Linked DNA regions of Homo sapiens: region 2 is linked to region 1. Evidence: fine-mapped expression QTL. A gene starts in region 1. The other region holds a variant in brackets. All regions are shown on one strand. Distances are from middle to middle.

The links.
Region 2: its variant is fine-mapped to the expression of PPP3CA in whole blood (TOPMed, PIP 0.97).

The regions. Positions count from the first base shown.
Region 1 is chr4:101,344,199-101,352,532 of GRCh38, forward strand. It overlaps PPP3CA (protein phosphatase 3 catalytic subunit alpha), which reads right to left and starts at 3,328. Exons shown (of 14, transcript NM_000944.5): 1 at 2,541-3,328. The coding sequence starts at 2,598. PPP3CA-DT (PPP3CA divergent transcript) reads left to right here and starts at 3,579. Exons shown (of 2, transcript NR_033874.1): 1 at 3,579-3,811; 2 at 4,126-4,685. RefSeq lists silencers at 1,714-2,103, 2,124-2,483, 2,954-3,563.
Region 2 is chr4:101,034,466-101,042,799 of GRCh38, forward strand. PPP3CA (protein phosphatase 3 catalytic subunit alpha) reads right to left here. Exons shown (of 14, transcript NM_000944.5): 11 at 6,017-6,101. Among named protein-coding and RNA genes, the nearest start is that of LINC01218, 160 kb to the left of the region's middle. RefSeq lists an enhancer at 6,215-6,834. The variant C/G (reference allele first, on the strand shown) is at 3,571.

The DNA of each region.
Region 1 (8,334 bases):
AATCACTTGTTAATATGTTTCACATCCAGCATACGCGTACTTTCCATTCATTCAGTACGTGTATACATACTCAAGGGGAAATATTATTTCACAGAAAGCTAATAATCAAAATAGATTATCTCAAATAACTAATAATAAAAATCTTATGTATGACAAAAGGTTGAATCCAACCTTGTATAATGCCTTTCATGCCAATAATATTCTACAAGAAAACAGGATAAACAATAACAGTGTATCCACCTTAAAATCAGGATTCATCAACAAAACTTCTATAAACAAAATTTCACATTTCACATCTCACATCAGGATCTCTATCAAAACAAATGCAAAATTAACTTTTCCTATTTTGAGTCTACTATCCACATAGTATGTGAATAAAATTTTTTAAATTATGGGTGAGTGTGTGTACCTAAAATGAAAAGTCATTTATAATGGTACAGTATTGAAAAAAAGCAAGGCAAAGTAGCCTTGGAATGGTTGAGTGGGCTCTTCCATTTTAAGCAGTAGAGAAACTAAGCCAGAAAGTATAAACATTTATTTTTACATGTTCACCTGATGACTTTACACCTACATTAAGAATCCACATCCTATGATTTAAAACAGGGAATGTGACCTTATGTGTGCACAAGTGTTTTTTTAATTGCCAACACGTTCACTAGTATCATTTGAATTATAAGCTTTACATTGTTTTGATCTTAACCTAGATTGGAGCTACATCTAAACTTCACACATTAAGGAGATAATTGTCATTCTCTGATATTTCTGCAAAGGGTCTCAATTTTTGAAAATGTCAACAGAAGCCTTTCATGCAAAACACAGCTCTCTCAAATAAATGTGAATGGACTGTTTCCATGAAAATCCATGCCTGCAGGAAAAATAAAATAGCTGTGCATCTCTCTGCAGCCCTATTTCGAATCATTTTTGCAGAGCTATTTCCTCATTATTTTCATGGGTATATGAATCCTGCACCGAAGCTGAAGCAGGAATGATTCCAGTAAAACCAAAACAAAAGAAGATATTTTGTTCTTTCTGAAAAAAGGGAACGTAATTTCCCCCATCACCACCACCACTCACACAGAAAAATTACTTTAAAAACTGAGTAAACCTCTAAGGAGAAAGAATCATTTCTGAAACCCCAGAGGGACTTGTGTATCATGGTCTTTGGGCTGCTGGGTTACTTCACTTTTAAGTGCTCATGGTGCAAACGACTTGATTGCCTTGCACTCTAGTTGCATGCTCTGGCCACATTAGATACCATCTCTGTTCTACACACAACACACACACATTACACCAGCCAGTGCTGTTTCCAATTTCAGAGGCCCGCTCCCCGCACAGCTCATGCCCATCTCTGCTTTGCTTGGTGTCCTGACCCCCAGGAATGTGAGATACTACTTAATCCAAGTGGTTCTGCTCTGTTGCCTCAGCCTTCCAGGATTCATAGGATGGTTCCTCCCCCACTACACCTAGGAATACAAGGAGGCCGATAGATTCCCGTGCGACAGAGTGATCAACCACAGCCTGTCCCCTTCCTCACTCCGCACATCCCAGTTTCTCTTTGCCAGCAACCTCAGTGCATCCTTGCCAGGAGTTTATCATCCCGTAGGCGGCGAAGAGGAGGCAATAATAGGAATCCAACAGCCCGTTACAAAAAGGATGCCAGGGCACGGAGGAAGCAGGCGGAATGAGGTTATCACTTGGGAGGTGTGCACGAGTGGAGAACCCTTTAAGAGCAATGACAGGTCGGCGGGGGACAGCCGGGGATGGCAAGAGAGGCTGGAGAAGTGGTTTTCGTGTCTCTCCCCGGGGCGTGCGGGGGAAATCCCGGGGCGGCAACGGCTGGTGCTCTCAGGTCGTTCCCCGCCTCCCGCGCCCCCCGCGGCCACCCTCCAGCCAGCGACCGCCCCCGCCCCCGCCCCGCGCGGAAGGAAGCGCCGGGCTCCCCCCACGCTCTCCCGCTCTCTCGCGAGTCCTGTGCAGGCCCTTCCAGGGGGAGGGGGAGGGGGAGGGGGGCGCGGAGGGAATTGCTGCAATGGAGCTCCAAGACAACCCTGCCCAAGTGAGGCAGTCGGTGGAAAGCCACGGCCACATAAAAATGCCGTATTAATTTTTAAAAAGCCATCAATCACCCCTCCCTCTGCAGAAGAAAACCATAAACCCGATCCCATGCAAGCCTGTGAGCAGAGCCACCCACTTCCTATTTCTGTCACAGCAGCTACACCCTACCAGCAACCACCCCCCGGGCGCCCCCTCCCACCACCGCCACCCCCGCCGCCACCTCCCCGCGGCTCAGCCATTTGCCAACTGACGCCCCCGTCAATAAAAATGCCCCAAGTGAGGCTGGGTGGGACGCGTGGGGGAAGGGCGCCGCGGGGGCGGGGGGTTCGCGGGGTTCGCGGGTTGCACAATATCCTAGAAGGTCCGCGGCTGGAGCGGACAGAGGAGAACCTGGGGCGGGGGAGGGGAGGAAAGGCGAGGCGAGGCAAGCTGCCCTGGCGCCTGCGGCACACGGTGCACCCAGGCCACCGCGGCGCTCCGCTTACCTTTCACCACCCTGTCGGTCGTCGACAACTTGGGATCAATTGCCTTGGGCTCGGACATCTCCAGCTGCCGGAGGACAGCGACGCGCTGCTCGTCCGTCCGACTGCACACCCCGACCGGACCGGCGGGCCAGACACTCAACGCCGCCGCCGCCGCCGCCGCCGCCGCGCTGCAAACCGCTCGGCTGGAGGTCTAGGCTCTGAGCTGGCTTTAAAGTTGCTGCCTTTTCCGCGCGTCCCTCCTCCGCCGCCGCCGCCTTCACTCCTCCTCCGCCGCTGCCGCCAGCCCCGCCGACTCGCTCCGGGCTGCGCGTGTGTGGTGGTTATTTATTTATTTTCTGAGCACGCCTCCCGGTTCTTCTTTTATTCTTGGGGGAAGGGGGATGGGGAGGAGAAGCGCACACACGAGCACCCACCCCGGCACGGAGACCCAGCACCGCGGAATGGAGCCCCACGCGCGCACACACGGCCAGGATTAAGACCGATCACATGGGGAAGGCCGGGGGCGAGGGAGGAGAGGCAGGGCCGCCGATGTCAGTGCCACCAGCCGCACCTTGGCGTCCCCGGCGGCGGAGAGGCGGCCGCCGCTGCTGCCGCTGCTGCTGCCGCTGCCGCTGTTGCTGCTGCCGCTGCCCCTGCTTCTCCACACAGAGCGCCGCCGCTGGTGCCGCGGCCGCCGGAGACGTCCCGCCGCCGCGATCGCCCGCGCTCGCCTCTGCCTCCCCGCGCCGCTCCTCCACTCACCAAGGCACAGCCGCCGAGCTCGGCAGACACAGTCCCGGGCACAACCTACCCCCCTCCGCCGCCGCCGCCGCCGCCAACACCGCGCCCGCCTCCGCCTCCTCCCCTTCCTCCTCCCGGCCCCCGCCTCTTGCGCGCCTGCAGCCTCCTCCTCCCCACTGAGCCCGCCCCCGACCTCCCGCCCCGACGCCGGAGTTCCTCGCGTTCATTGGCTAGAGGGCGCATCACTCAGTGCCAGGTGGCGGCCTCCCCGCTTGTCCCGCCTCCCGCTCCTCCTCATTGTCCCCGCCCCTTGCTCTGTTTTCTTCCAGCTGCCGGACCAGCGGGCCTGCCGCCTCTACGGACCAGTCCCTGCTCAGGTGTCACTTTTGCTGGCAGGCCGAGATTAGGGCAGGAGAGTGGGCAAGGCGTCGCGGCCAGGAGGAGAAGGGCTCTACCACGCCACCCTCCTTTGGCCTCCGAACGCGGACCCCGCACACACACACCCGCGCCTCTTTGGCAAGCGTGCCTTGTCGGCTGGGTTAAGCCGCAGTGTGAGTAGCCAAGTGCAGAGGGTGTCTCCGGGTGTGTGCGTGGCCCACAAGAGGGCAAGAAGAGAGAAGGCGGGGATAGGAGGGAAGAGGGTGGGGGTGAGAGGCAGCCCTGAGAGGGCGGAGGAAGGAAGAGGCTGGGAGCTCGGCGCCCGCGGCGCAGCTGCCGTCGCTGCCGCAGCTGTCCAGGGAGGATCGCCAAAACGGCGACGAATAAACAACTTACCTTGCGGAGAAGAGCTACGACTGCGATGCGGTGTACGGTTGTTTTTGCTTTTGCGTTGGCGGCTTAGGGGCTGTTACTGTGTCCCACCCAGGCGTGCACACCGAGCGGCGGGGCGCTGTGGAACGCGGGAGCGGACTAGCGGAGGAGGATGCGGACCAAGCCCCAGCGACCCAGGGCAACTCGGAGCTACCTCGGGCAGCCCTGCGGGTCTCCGAGGAGAACCGAGGAGACGGGAGAAACATGGGAGAGGGTGGCCTTTTCCCTGTTCACACACACATGCACGCAGCCACTGGCCGGGACAGTTGACACCCATCTTCCTTCCCTGCTCCTTCCAGTCATTCTACACCCGCTTGGTGCTGCCAGTGCGGGCAGGGCCTTGGAGCCCAAAGCGGATCCCCACACTTGTCCCTACGGTCGGAAGGAAAGTAGAGGAGAGAAAGTCAGGCGCGGCAGGGCTAAGAGCAATAGTGGCCCAAATGTTCCTGGCCCGCCTGCTGCGCCACAGAGTCTGAAAAGCGGGTCTCCGTCTACCAGAAGGTGACCTCCACACAGCCCCTCTCCCCGACCAACTGCAGCACCCAAGGACTGGCAACGTGGTTGGAGCTTTTGGGGGGAATTATGAAGAAATCTGAATAAATTTCTCACCCTTCATGTTTCCTGTTTTATTTCCAAAGTCCTTCAGTATCAGGTTTTTCCTATTTCCTCAATTGGACCACGGGTCCAATAAAAGGTTTAAAATACACACACACACACACACACACACACACACACACAAAGAAAACAAAAACAAAAAAAAAAGTTTAGGGAGCTGGGAGATGAAGCCAAAAGAAATGTTTTGGAGACAAGGATTAGATTAAAGCTCAAACTTGAAAATCAATTTTGAGTAAGAGACTGATTGTGCTGCAGCGTGACTTTGATGTGGACTGCACGGAATAGAAACACACACTAGATACCTCTGTGGAGGCCTAGCAAAAGGAGCAGACGCAGGGTGTGTCCCACCAAGATAGGGAGGCTGCCACTGGCACTGAGATTCTGCTGCCCAATTTCCAACCCCAGGATACTGGGTGGCAATTAGACAATTCATTCAATAAAGATATTTTCTGTACTCCTTTTATTTATATGCCAGACTTTGTGGTGGGTAATTAGGTGGGGAGGGAGTGTATTTGAAAATTGTCCTTGCCCTCAATAAAGCCTAAAATTTTCAGAGAACATAAAATTATGAGCTCTGAGAGGTCACTGTAATCTCAGGAAGGGGTTGTTGGAAACAGCCTCCTGAGCACGGGCAGAGCTAGTTGCTAAGGCAGATTTGGGAAGTTGGTCCCTGGCCAGATGGCACACAGGGAGCGATGCCAAGACCTGTGGGTGAAGAGGGCCTGCTTCAGAAAGACCAGGAAACCATGTCCAGGGATGCTCATTTCCAAGGCCAAGACATTCTCTCCTACATATTAGAAAAAAATGAAGTTCCCACCTTTATTTGGAATAACTTTTTACTAGGTATAGGATAAACATCTTTGAACCAAGATCAGAAGGCTTAAAATGTCAGCACCATATAAAATTACATGATACAGATAGGAAATAAAGGCACACCTTTCAGGCACACCCTTTAGTCCGCTACAAGTCTAGGACACCTCCTAGCTAAGGTATGTATGGGAAGAAAAAGTTATGACTCACAATCACTTCCCAACACATTATCAACATGAACTTTTAATGCCTGTGTATGATTCCATAACTGCTGCAACACTGACACCTCTTAAACAAAATTGGATCCTGCTCTAAGGAAACAGGACGGCAGCATATTAACTAGGGACTACTTGTGTTCATACACCTGACCTCCTGAAGTAGACAGACAGATCATCTTTTTTATTCGGTTACTGTTTCAGATGTCCTACCCTCTCCTACTGCCATTCTTTTTCTGTCCTGTCCAGAGATCCCCAACCTTTTTGGCACCAGGGACTGGTTTCGCGGAAGACAATTTTCCCATGGATGGTGGTTGGGGGTGGTTTCAGGATAAAACTGTTCCACCTCAGATCGTCAAGCATTAGATTCTCATAAGGAGCGGGCAAGCTAGATCCCTTGCATGCACGGTTCACAGTAAGGTTTGCACTCCTATGGGAATCTAATGCCACTGCTGATCTGACAGGAGGTAGAGCTCAGGCAGTAATGTTTGCTCACTCTGCTGCAGATCTCCTGCTGTACAGTCCAGTTCCTAATAGGCCACAGACTGGTACTGTTCTGTGGCCCAGGGGTTGGGAACCTCCGTGTTAGACTGCCCTAGCAGTCCATAATTATATTACTGCTTGCATGAGAATACTTTATATTTGGAATTTACATTTTGAAGGGGTTACTTCAGTTCCCAGATGCTGACTTTGGCAATGTCCTGCTTATCAAGAAATAGGAGGGGGGAAAAGCTTGAAAAAAGACAACTTTTTGTCTACCAAAAAAATGTGTTTTCCCTCCCTTAGTATAATTCACTCTGGGAAGTGTCTGCCCAGAGAGGGATTCCCATTTCTAGCCTGACCCTTCTTTCCTCGAAGAAGGTCCATGTGACCAGTTCTGATCAATGGACTGTGGACTAAGATGGTTGGTCACTCTCAGGACAAGGCAGTTAAGCAGTAGATATACATTTTCTAGTCTATGGGCTCCCATCCTTAGCGGAATGCAGAGACTTCTAAGACCCAGGGCAGGCAGAACCCCAGAGACAAAGACGAGAGTCCCTTAATTACCACATAGAGGAATACTACCCAGTTACTAAGAAAATAGGCATTAGGCTTTACTCATTTATTGTGTTACTCCATTACAATGTGGAGATATGTTTGTTAGACTAGTTAATATTACCAAATTAATATACGAAAGTAATATGTTAGTTCCAAAAGTACATTCCTTAGCAAAACCTAGAATTATTGTTTTACTGTAATATAAGAGAACTACCAGAAGACTAAAAATACTCTTACTTCTTTTAATACATGAGCATCAAATCTTAATTCTCTGTTAATGAATATTCTTTGACCACACCTGTTCTGTGCCCTATGCTACATGATGCATAAAATGTAGGGAGTAAAGAAGGATTCAGAGATTTTGTTCCTTCATTCAAGGATTTAAAAGTCTTGTTATATGATCATTAGATATATATTATATTTGCAAACATTTATGTATAAGGTGCTACTTCCTCTTTCTATTGGAGAAGAAAAACTATTAGATTTATCAAAAGTAATTATGAAGATAAATATGTGGGCAAAAAAAGAAAATATTGTGGATTTGGAGTCATCTGTGCATTTAAGTGCTCCACAGAGCAAGCTTCCATTGGTGCAAATCACAGTAAATTAAGTACATTTTAGTATACTATTAAGTGCTTTATCAGATGTTTTAGTTTTAAAAATAAAATAAAATATTGTATGTTATATTCTGTTTTGAAAATAACAGGCTTTCAAAATTTTGAACTTGTATTTGGTTCTTGGATGAATTTATTATCATTTGGACATTACGGTTGAGTAGTAACTTCTGATTATGGCTGGGCATGGTGGCTTACGCCTGTAATCCCAGCACTTTGGGAGGCCGAGGCAGGTGGATCACGAGCTCAGGAGTTCGAGACCAGCCTGCCCAATATGGTGAAACCCCGTCTCTACTAAAAATACAAAAATTAACCAGGCGTGGTGGTGTGTGCCTGTAGTCCCAGCTACTCGGGAGGATGAGACAGAAGAATTGCTTGAACTCAGGAAGCAGAGATTGCATTGAGCTGCAATCATGCCACTGCACTCCAGCTTCGGTGACAGAGTGAGACTCCATCTCAAAAAAAAATAAAAATAAAAAAAAACTTCTGATTATGACTCTTCTGAGGCATTCACTTTTTTCTGAGTAGCTGATGGTAGACAGCAGTATGTCTGCTCTATCCTCACTTAAGTTAGTGGAGCACAATGCTGAGGAACCTGCAAAGTAGGACAGTCAATCCTGATAGGGCCATGAATGTATATGAGACTTTGATTTATTATCTTAAAGCTAATTCCTGTGACATTTCCTTCTCACATTTTCTAGTTCTACCCTACTTCCATAGAGGTTCTATGAAATATGCTATTCTACATAGATCTAATTTGAGGTTCAAACTAAAAGGAAGTTTTATTACCTATTTTTTTATTGCTCTTGAAATTTTGTTGAGCCTTGTTTCTTTCAGAAGGCAGTTTTACCCATTTAAAGAAGTTATTTTTCAAGGAACATTAAAAATTTTTGTATCAAATGTATTCAGGAATAAATTTAATTTTTTCCCATTAGGATTAAACTATAATTTATGGAATTATATGCTAAGTGT
Region 2 (8,334 bases), 310 kb before region 1:
CTGTCCACTCCATTCCCCTCCTGCCATGCCCCCACCCCCTCCCCCAGCTAGACAAGCCTCATGAGAGCAGGGGTTATTGTCTGCTTTAATCACTGCTGCATCCACAGCACCCAGACTAGAACAGTACCTGGTACATAGCTCACATTTCAAAAATATTTGCCAAAAATAAAACAGTAAAAGTTGAATGGAGAATGGAAATGTTAATCCATATTTTAGATTTCTGTATCCTCTACTGCAAAGTTTACTTAAAAATAATAGGTTTGAGATAATTAATTATTGTTTATTTTCATGCATGTATTTCAAACTTTTTAAGCTTCTGTGGTCTGTCAAACCACTAGAGGTCCCATGAAGAAATACATTGAATGATAATATGAGTTGGGAAAATTGGGAGTACCTCTAAAGAACGAACACAATTTTCTTTTACATTCATATTCAAAATATGGCTTTTGCCTCATGAGTGATTATAATTCCTACATACAAAATCTTGGTGTCAAATCCTGTATTAAATATGGGATTCAGGCTGGGCACCGTGGCTCATACCTGTAATTCCAGCACTTTGGGAGGCAGAGGTGGGCAGATCACTTGAGACCAGGAGTTTGAGACCAGCCTGGCCAACATGGTGAAACCTCGTCTCTACTAAAAAATATATAAAAATTAGCCGGGTGTGATGGCATGCTCCTGTAATCCCAGCTACTTGGGAGGCTGAGACATGAGAATTGCTCGAACCCAGGAGGTGGAGGTTGCAGTGAGCAGAGATCGTGCCACTGCACTCCAGCCAGAGCGCAAGAGCGAGACCGTCTTAAAACAAAACAAAACAAAAAAACAAAACCCCCCCAAAAACATGGGACTCATCAAAAAAAACAATTACAACCCATAATGCTCTGAGAAAGCCAAGTAAATTATTAGCTTTTTACCTACAAAACTCTTCTGGTAATCTGAAGTATTCTTTTTAATCTTCAAAATTTTAATTTTGTACCAACAGTAGGAAGATCTTTTTGGGAAATCACATCTTTGTGGGGGTCACACTCAGGCTAACATCTCAGTCATAAGACTGATGTTGGGACATCATTTAACTTTCTTGGGCTTCAGTTTCCTTATCTATAAAATCACAACTGTAATTATGGGATTTCCATGAAGATTAAATGATACACTGTTACAAAAGCCCCAGCATAGAAGATGGTCATTTTCCTTCCTTCCTTGCTCTTTTTTTCTTTCTTGTTCAACCACATTCCTTACTTCCCTTAATTGTGACTGCCATTCCTGCCTCACACGGAAGCCATGCCCTCAAAGGTTTCTAGCAGCTTCTTCATTTTTCAATTCCAACTATCTCTGCTGAATTCTCATTCAAACTGATATCTCTGCAGTAATTTCCTCTGATGACCATGCCCTCCGTCCTGAAAGACTCTTTGCCCTAGGTGTTGTAATGCTTTTTTCTCCTGCTTCTCCTTCTCCTTCTCTGACATCTTTTCAGTTCCTAGGCTGATCTTTTTCTTCTATCTCCAGATCCGTGCTTTCTAATATGTAGGCCCCAGTTACATGTGGCTGTTAACCACCTGAGACATGACTAGTCGAATTAAGATGTGCTGTAAGTGTAAAATACACATGGGATTTCAAAGATGTAGTACAAATATAAGAATAGAAAATGTCCCTTTAATAAGTGTTATATTGATCAAATGTCAAAGTGATAAAATTTTGGAGACTTGTGTTAAACAGACTGTATTATAATAATTTCTTTAGTTTCTGTTTCTACCCCTTTTACTGTGGTGTCTAGAAAATTTAAAATGACAGATGTGGCTCACATTTTATTTCTATTGGAAAGCAATGTTCTGAAGAATTCTTTATTTTTCTCCTCTCACTTTTCACGCTATCCTTTAGCAAGACCATCAGCTTACATTGCTGTACTCTTGTCTCTGTGTTGTTTACTCTCGTCTACATTTCTTTTTCTTTCTTTCTTTTTTTTTTTTGAGATGGAGTCTTGCTCTGCTGCCCAGGCTGGAGTGCAGTGGCGCAATCTCGGCTCACTGCAAGCCCCGCCTCCGGGGTTTATGGCAGTCTCCTGCCTCAGCCTCCTGAGTAGCTGGGACTACAGGCACCTGCCACCACGCCCAGCTAATTTTTTTGTATTTTCAGTAGAGATGGGGTTTCACCATGTTAGCCAGGATGGTCTCGATCTCCTGACCTCATGATCCACCCGCCTTGGCCTCCCAAAGTGTTGGGATTACAGGCGTGAGCCACCGCACCCAGCCTTATGTCCACATTTCTAACCCTCGCCTCTCTCTGAACCTCCAGGGCAGAATTTCTAAGTGCCTCTACATAAATGCTCTGCCAAATTCAGTGCATCCTACTCTTCCCGATAAATACCTGTTAGGTATTTAAATTGAAAAGTACTTCCTCTTCTTTAGACAATGGCATCCTATCAATGGCATAGACTGGAACCCCTGTAGAATATTCTGGAATACTTCCTCTCTCTTGTAGCCTCTCATATAGGTAAGGGTTCTCACAGCCAACACCGGAAATCTATTCTGGCTAATTTTAACAGGAAAGAGATATATTAAAGGTATTAGAGAGCTCACAGATCCAGAGAACTGGGCTTCGATGCTCTGTAGCTGGGAAGGGTAACAGTACTTGTTCATACTGTGGGGTGGGCTCCATGAAAGGCTTGCCACTGATGTTCACAGCCAATGCCAGAGCTCATACTAATGCTGTGTAGTTAGCTCCCAAAATGCTGAGGTGGAAGCTCTTCCACTGCTGGCCCATGAGATTCCACACCTGACAGGACAATTGTTGTCCTGCCTTGCTGCTTCCTCATGATGCTCAATTTGAAACAAAGCCTTGCTTACATGCATTTATCTGACTGGCAAACCCTAGGCAACAGACTTGTATTTTATCTGCAAGGACTGCTGAAAGACAGTTTTCTGGTTCCCTTATAAGGTTGCACATTTCCAAAACGTAAGAAACATGTTGGGCAAGTATACCTGACAAATTTGTACCACATTCCACATTCATTAATCACGTCCTGTTTTCCCAAATTCCTTGTATTTGTCCTTTCCTTTGCACTTCTCTCCCCATAGCCTGGTCCAGCCTTTTGCTGGGATTACTTCAAAAGCTTCCTAAATGGTTTTTTTTTTTAATTTACATTTTATTTTATATTTATTCACTTTTTTCATTATCCATACGTCACCTTGCTAGCCAATCTTCACGTTGCAATTAACATGTATAGTGAAACATGGGTTAGAGCATGCCTCTAATCTCACGAAAATAATTCTACAACTCCTGATTGCCTACACACACAAAAATTAAATGTTTTAACATGCTATTCAAAACACTCAAGGATATGGACTTCAGTATATTTTCAGTCTCCTTTTAAACTAGATTCCTCACTCACCTTCATGTCTTTTGCTAGTCAGTCCTTTAATACATTTAGAATTCATTACTAGACTACTAGTATTGCTAAGAATTTATACTAGACTACATAGCACAGTTTTGAGTAAGACTCTCATTAGTGTTGCTCCCCAACTGAGGGAGTTTGGACACTCTGCTTAGCCTCTCTCAGATTCAATTTCCTCACAG[C/G]AAAGTGAAGTCACCACAACCTTGCAAGCTTCCTGTGTCGATGATTGTCAAATGTGCATAACATGGGGCATGAACCTGGCACTTAGCAAGTGCCCCATAAAAGGATGCCATTGATAGTGCTCTTAGGATTGTGTGGCTGTGCTCCTGATAATTTTTCCACTTCCAGGAATGCCTTCACCACATCTCTCCCTGCCCTGGAATCCAGCCTATCCTTCACAGCACTCCTCCAATTTTAACCTCTTTATGAACACTCCAGTCAGGAAACACAAGGTTCCTTCCTGTCTAATGCCACAGCAGGGTATCTATTCATGTAGTTATTTAGCACACACTTTTTTTTTCTTTTTTTTTTTTTGAGATGGAGTCTTGCTCTGTCACCCAGGCTGGAGTGCAGTGGCGCGATCTCGGCTTACTGCAACCTCCGCCTCCTGGGTTTGAGAGATTCTCCTGCCTCAGCCTCCTGAGTAGCTGGGATTACAGGCACGTGTCACCATGCCCGGCTAATTTTCGTATTTTTAGTAGAGACAGGGTTTCTCCATGTTGCTCAGGCTGGTCTCGAACTTCTGACCTTGTGATCTGCCTACCTCGGCCTCCCAAAGTGCTGGGATTACAGGCGTGAGCCACCACGCCCGGCCACTTTATTTTCTTTTGTTAGTTTATTGTCTATCTGGCTGGCATTCCAATTTGGTATCTAGATTGCCTAATTCAGTGCATGGTATACAGTTAATGCTCAATCATTATTTACTAAGCTTAACTTACTTTTTTCTGGATAGGATCTCTCTATATTCTGCATATGTGTTATGGATGCTTTTATTATAGAAAAACAATAATATAGAGCTTGCTTTTATTTTCTATTAACATGTGCAATTTTAAGTCAAGTCACTCATCACTGGGTTCAAATAGTCCATTTATCACGGGATAGTCATGGAAATTCTAGAGCTGTTTTTACTTTCCCTCAGAGACTTCAGACAGAATAAGAAATAAAAGCATTATTGGTAAATCTGAGGCACAATAAATAAACAAGTGTTTACTCAGAATTCCAATTAAGCTTATGACCTTCATATACGCCTTTGTCCCCACAGAACATTTTTCTAGCCATACAGGCCTCCTTGTGGTCCTCAAAACTGCCAGTTTTGTCTTTACTTAAGTATCTTTGCACTTGCTATTGTCTTTGCCTTGAACTCCCTTACCTCATTTCTTCATGAAGGTCACCTATGCTTGCCCAAATACCATTACTCAGAAAGTTTTTTGTTGACCACACACTAAAAGAAGTTCTTTATCTCCCACTTGCTCCATCTCTACATTGCCTTATTTCTTTTCTCCATGGTACATAATCAATGCTTTAAGTTTCACTATATTTACTTATGGCATGAATGAATAAGCCCTGAAAATGTAGTTGGAAACGTACAGCAATAGAGCAAAGGTAGCCTCATTCAATAACGGAAGGGAGCAATGATGCCCTATTTTCCGCTTGAACATGGCTGGTCGTGAATGTGCTGGCTACCACAGAGTTCTCACTGCCTTTGATGTGGTGTCTCTGAGAGAGCATGATAATGCTTTTCATCCTTCTCATGGCTACCTCTTTTGGCATTAAGTCATTCAGTTACTCTTTAGTGACTGTACCAGGAAGAGGATAGAAATAGCAAGAGGAGAAATCAAAAGAGCCAGTGTCGATACTCTATGAGAAAGAGTTGGGGCAAAAATTTGGCAAAAAATTTGATTATTAAATTATCCAATTGTAGATGTAATATTTCCCAAGGTGTTCCTATTTACTCGCTAATATGTATCATTTTGAATTGACTGTAGACTCCTTACATATAAATATATCATATTTTAAAGTAATCTTTTGAAGAGAAATGTTACATTGTATTATTTAGAAATAACTGGAGTTTCCTTCAAGAAAATATTTGTTTTCTAAATTAATGCTTAATAATAATAATATGATTCATAATCTACAAAATATACTACTATATGGAAATTGAAACAGTAATTTTTCTCTCAATAATTAGAATAACATAGATTCACATGAACAGCTTTATGGCTGATGTTCATTTCCTAGAAATCTAGTGAAATGTGTCTGATAAATACATCTTTCACCACGAGCCAGAACGAAAAACAAAACAAAAAAAATTACAATAGCTTTTCCTGTTTCCTAAGATATTCAACCTACCGTGAAATCAATGTTTTAAAGTCCTATAGCAAATAGAGGAATAAAATGTGATGCAATTCGAGACTTTCTTAACAGAAATAATTTAGTAGATTGCAATTTAACTAAAATAGTGAGAAACTGACAATTTCTCATTTAATTTTCCTCAATTTTTAATCTAAAAGGAAAAAAAGACAAATATTCTCTAGTAAAATATTTAAATTACCAGATGAAAGTATTAAAGTATTTATTAGGTGACACATAATACAATTTGAAACAAAAACAGAGTACGAATGCACCCACCTGAGCACTGAGAACACTCTGGCCATTTTGCCTATTGCTCGGATCTTGTTCCTTATCACCTCTTTCCGGGCTGCAGCTGTTGCACCTGTATTTTCAAACAGAGTTCAGTGGTCAGTAATTTTTTATCTAATTGTAATTGATTTTACACATTTACACATACAACAGACTCCAGTAAGCAAAATCAGTATTTTTTTTTTTTCCCCCTTAAGAGGATTTATCTGTAAATCAAATTTGAAAATTTAAGCTTTTGGCCACCAATACTAGGATGTGATTTTTGAGAGGTCCCCATAGTGCCAAAGAAAAACTTTCGAGATATCCAGAGGGGAGGTGAGTAAGAAGCTAACTGGAAAATCACTGAGCAGAGAGGGGTAGGTTCCTATCCTCCTCTTCCAATTGACTTTCCCCTTCTTTTCTATTTATACAGAGACCACGCATTGGGAGGAAGAGTTAAGTACCTTATCACCATCTTCTATTCATTTGCAGTCTCCATGCTGGGAAAACTACTTTAGGAAACTGCTTTTCCAAAAGTTCTCCTTTGATGTGATTAAACTAAGAAGTCTCTTAATTCCCTATCTGCCTTGCAACATCATTCATAATTATTTGATGATGATTGTTTGAGTACTTGATACTCTTTCATCTTCTGGTTGGTTCATGAGTTCTAGAGAAAAGAGTAGAGAACTGCTAAATTGGATTTAGTAAGAGACAATGGCACCATGGTTTGCATTTTAGTACTATTTTTGAAAGTTATGCATGGTTTTTCTGGGTAAGTCTTACCACTTGTTACATTTTCTAAATTAAAAAAATTAATTACATAGATTATTGTTACAAATAAACATATTATTTTAAAATAATGTTTTAAAGTAATACTTCAATGAGCCCATTTTATTTTTTCTTTTAATTCCCGAGGTACATTGGAAGAAGTATAAAACAGAAAAAATACCTCACAAATTTTTTTTTTTTTTTTTTTTTTTGAGACAGAGTCTCGCTCTGTCACCCAGGCTGGAGTGTAGTGGTGCGATTTCGGCTCACTGCAACCTCTGCCTCCCAGGTTCAAGTGATTTTCCTGCCTCAGCCTCCCAAGTAGCTGGCACAGGCATGTGCCACCAGGCCCAGCTAACTTTTTTTGTATTTTTAGTAGAGACAGGCTTCACCAGGTTGGTCAGGCTGGTCTCAAGCTCCTGACCTCAAATGACCTGCCTGCCTCAGCCTCCCAAAGTGCTGGGATTACAAGTGTGAGCCACCGCACCTGGTCAAGATTTTTATAATCCAAGGTAAAATGGATAAGCTATCCTTTTTATTCATTATGTGGGATTTTATAGAAAGCATTAACACAAGCAGATCGTCTAATTCTACTGCCTCTAATAGATATACAACAGAATATTCTTTTCAAATAATAACAGAAATGTTCCTAATCCAAATGAACAGTTTGAGTCAAGTAATTTGCTCAGGGACGGTAGTCTATAGATGATAACTGGTATGTGTTTTGGTCTTTTATTATAATTTGTGGTAACAGCAAGCTTTCACAGAAGGGTTTTGAAAAAAAGATTTCTACTGTTTCCCTTAGAGGGCTTTTATGAACACCATTTCTAATCTATTTGATTGTGTGGATCAATTAATATGCCAACATTTCCATGAGAAAGAAAACTTGTACAACACACACAATTTTGAAATGGCTAGAAAAAAGGTCTTTGCTTTTTTTTTTTTTTTTTTTTGCCCTCCACTCCAAGAAAGTGAAAACATATGGGTCACTTTCTTTGCCTGGGTGGGTAATCTTTCAGAGGTGATGCTAACACAAACCCATCTCATAGGTGCATGGGTGTTCCCCAGAGGGTGTGTGAAAACCAGCAAGCTGGTTTCCTCCCACCTTCCCTCTGCCCTGAAAACAGCCTACATTTGTGTCCATTTCTTCCTCTCTTGTGGCAACTATGCCATGGCAGGCACCTTTCAACATATCCAATGGGAAGGACTTATTATTGCCAGCTATTCTACCTGCAAATGGGTGGAATAAGTGTCTATCCATGTGGGAGACAGCTGTTCTCAGATCTAGCTGTTCTGATAATTAAGCAAAACCATGGGTTCTCATTCACTGTAAGTTCCTTGAATTATTAATTAGTCTCTCGGTCAGAACACTGGGGAGGAAAATAGGGTGTGTGCAGGATCCCTACCTCTAATCGTATTCTGATTTTGTAAACAATATTAATTATCTATGATTTGTAATTAAGATTATACATCAAATTCTGCTCTGGAGACCATCTAAAATTGAATTCTCTGTGCTTGGATTTTAGATGATTAATGAACAAGAGACCATGAAAAGACTT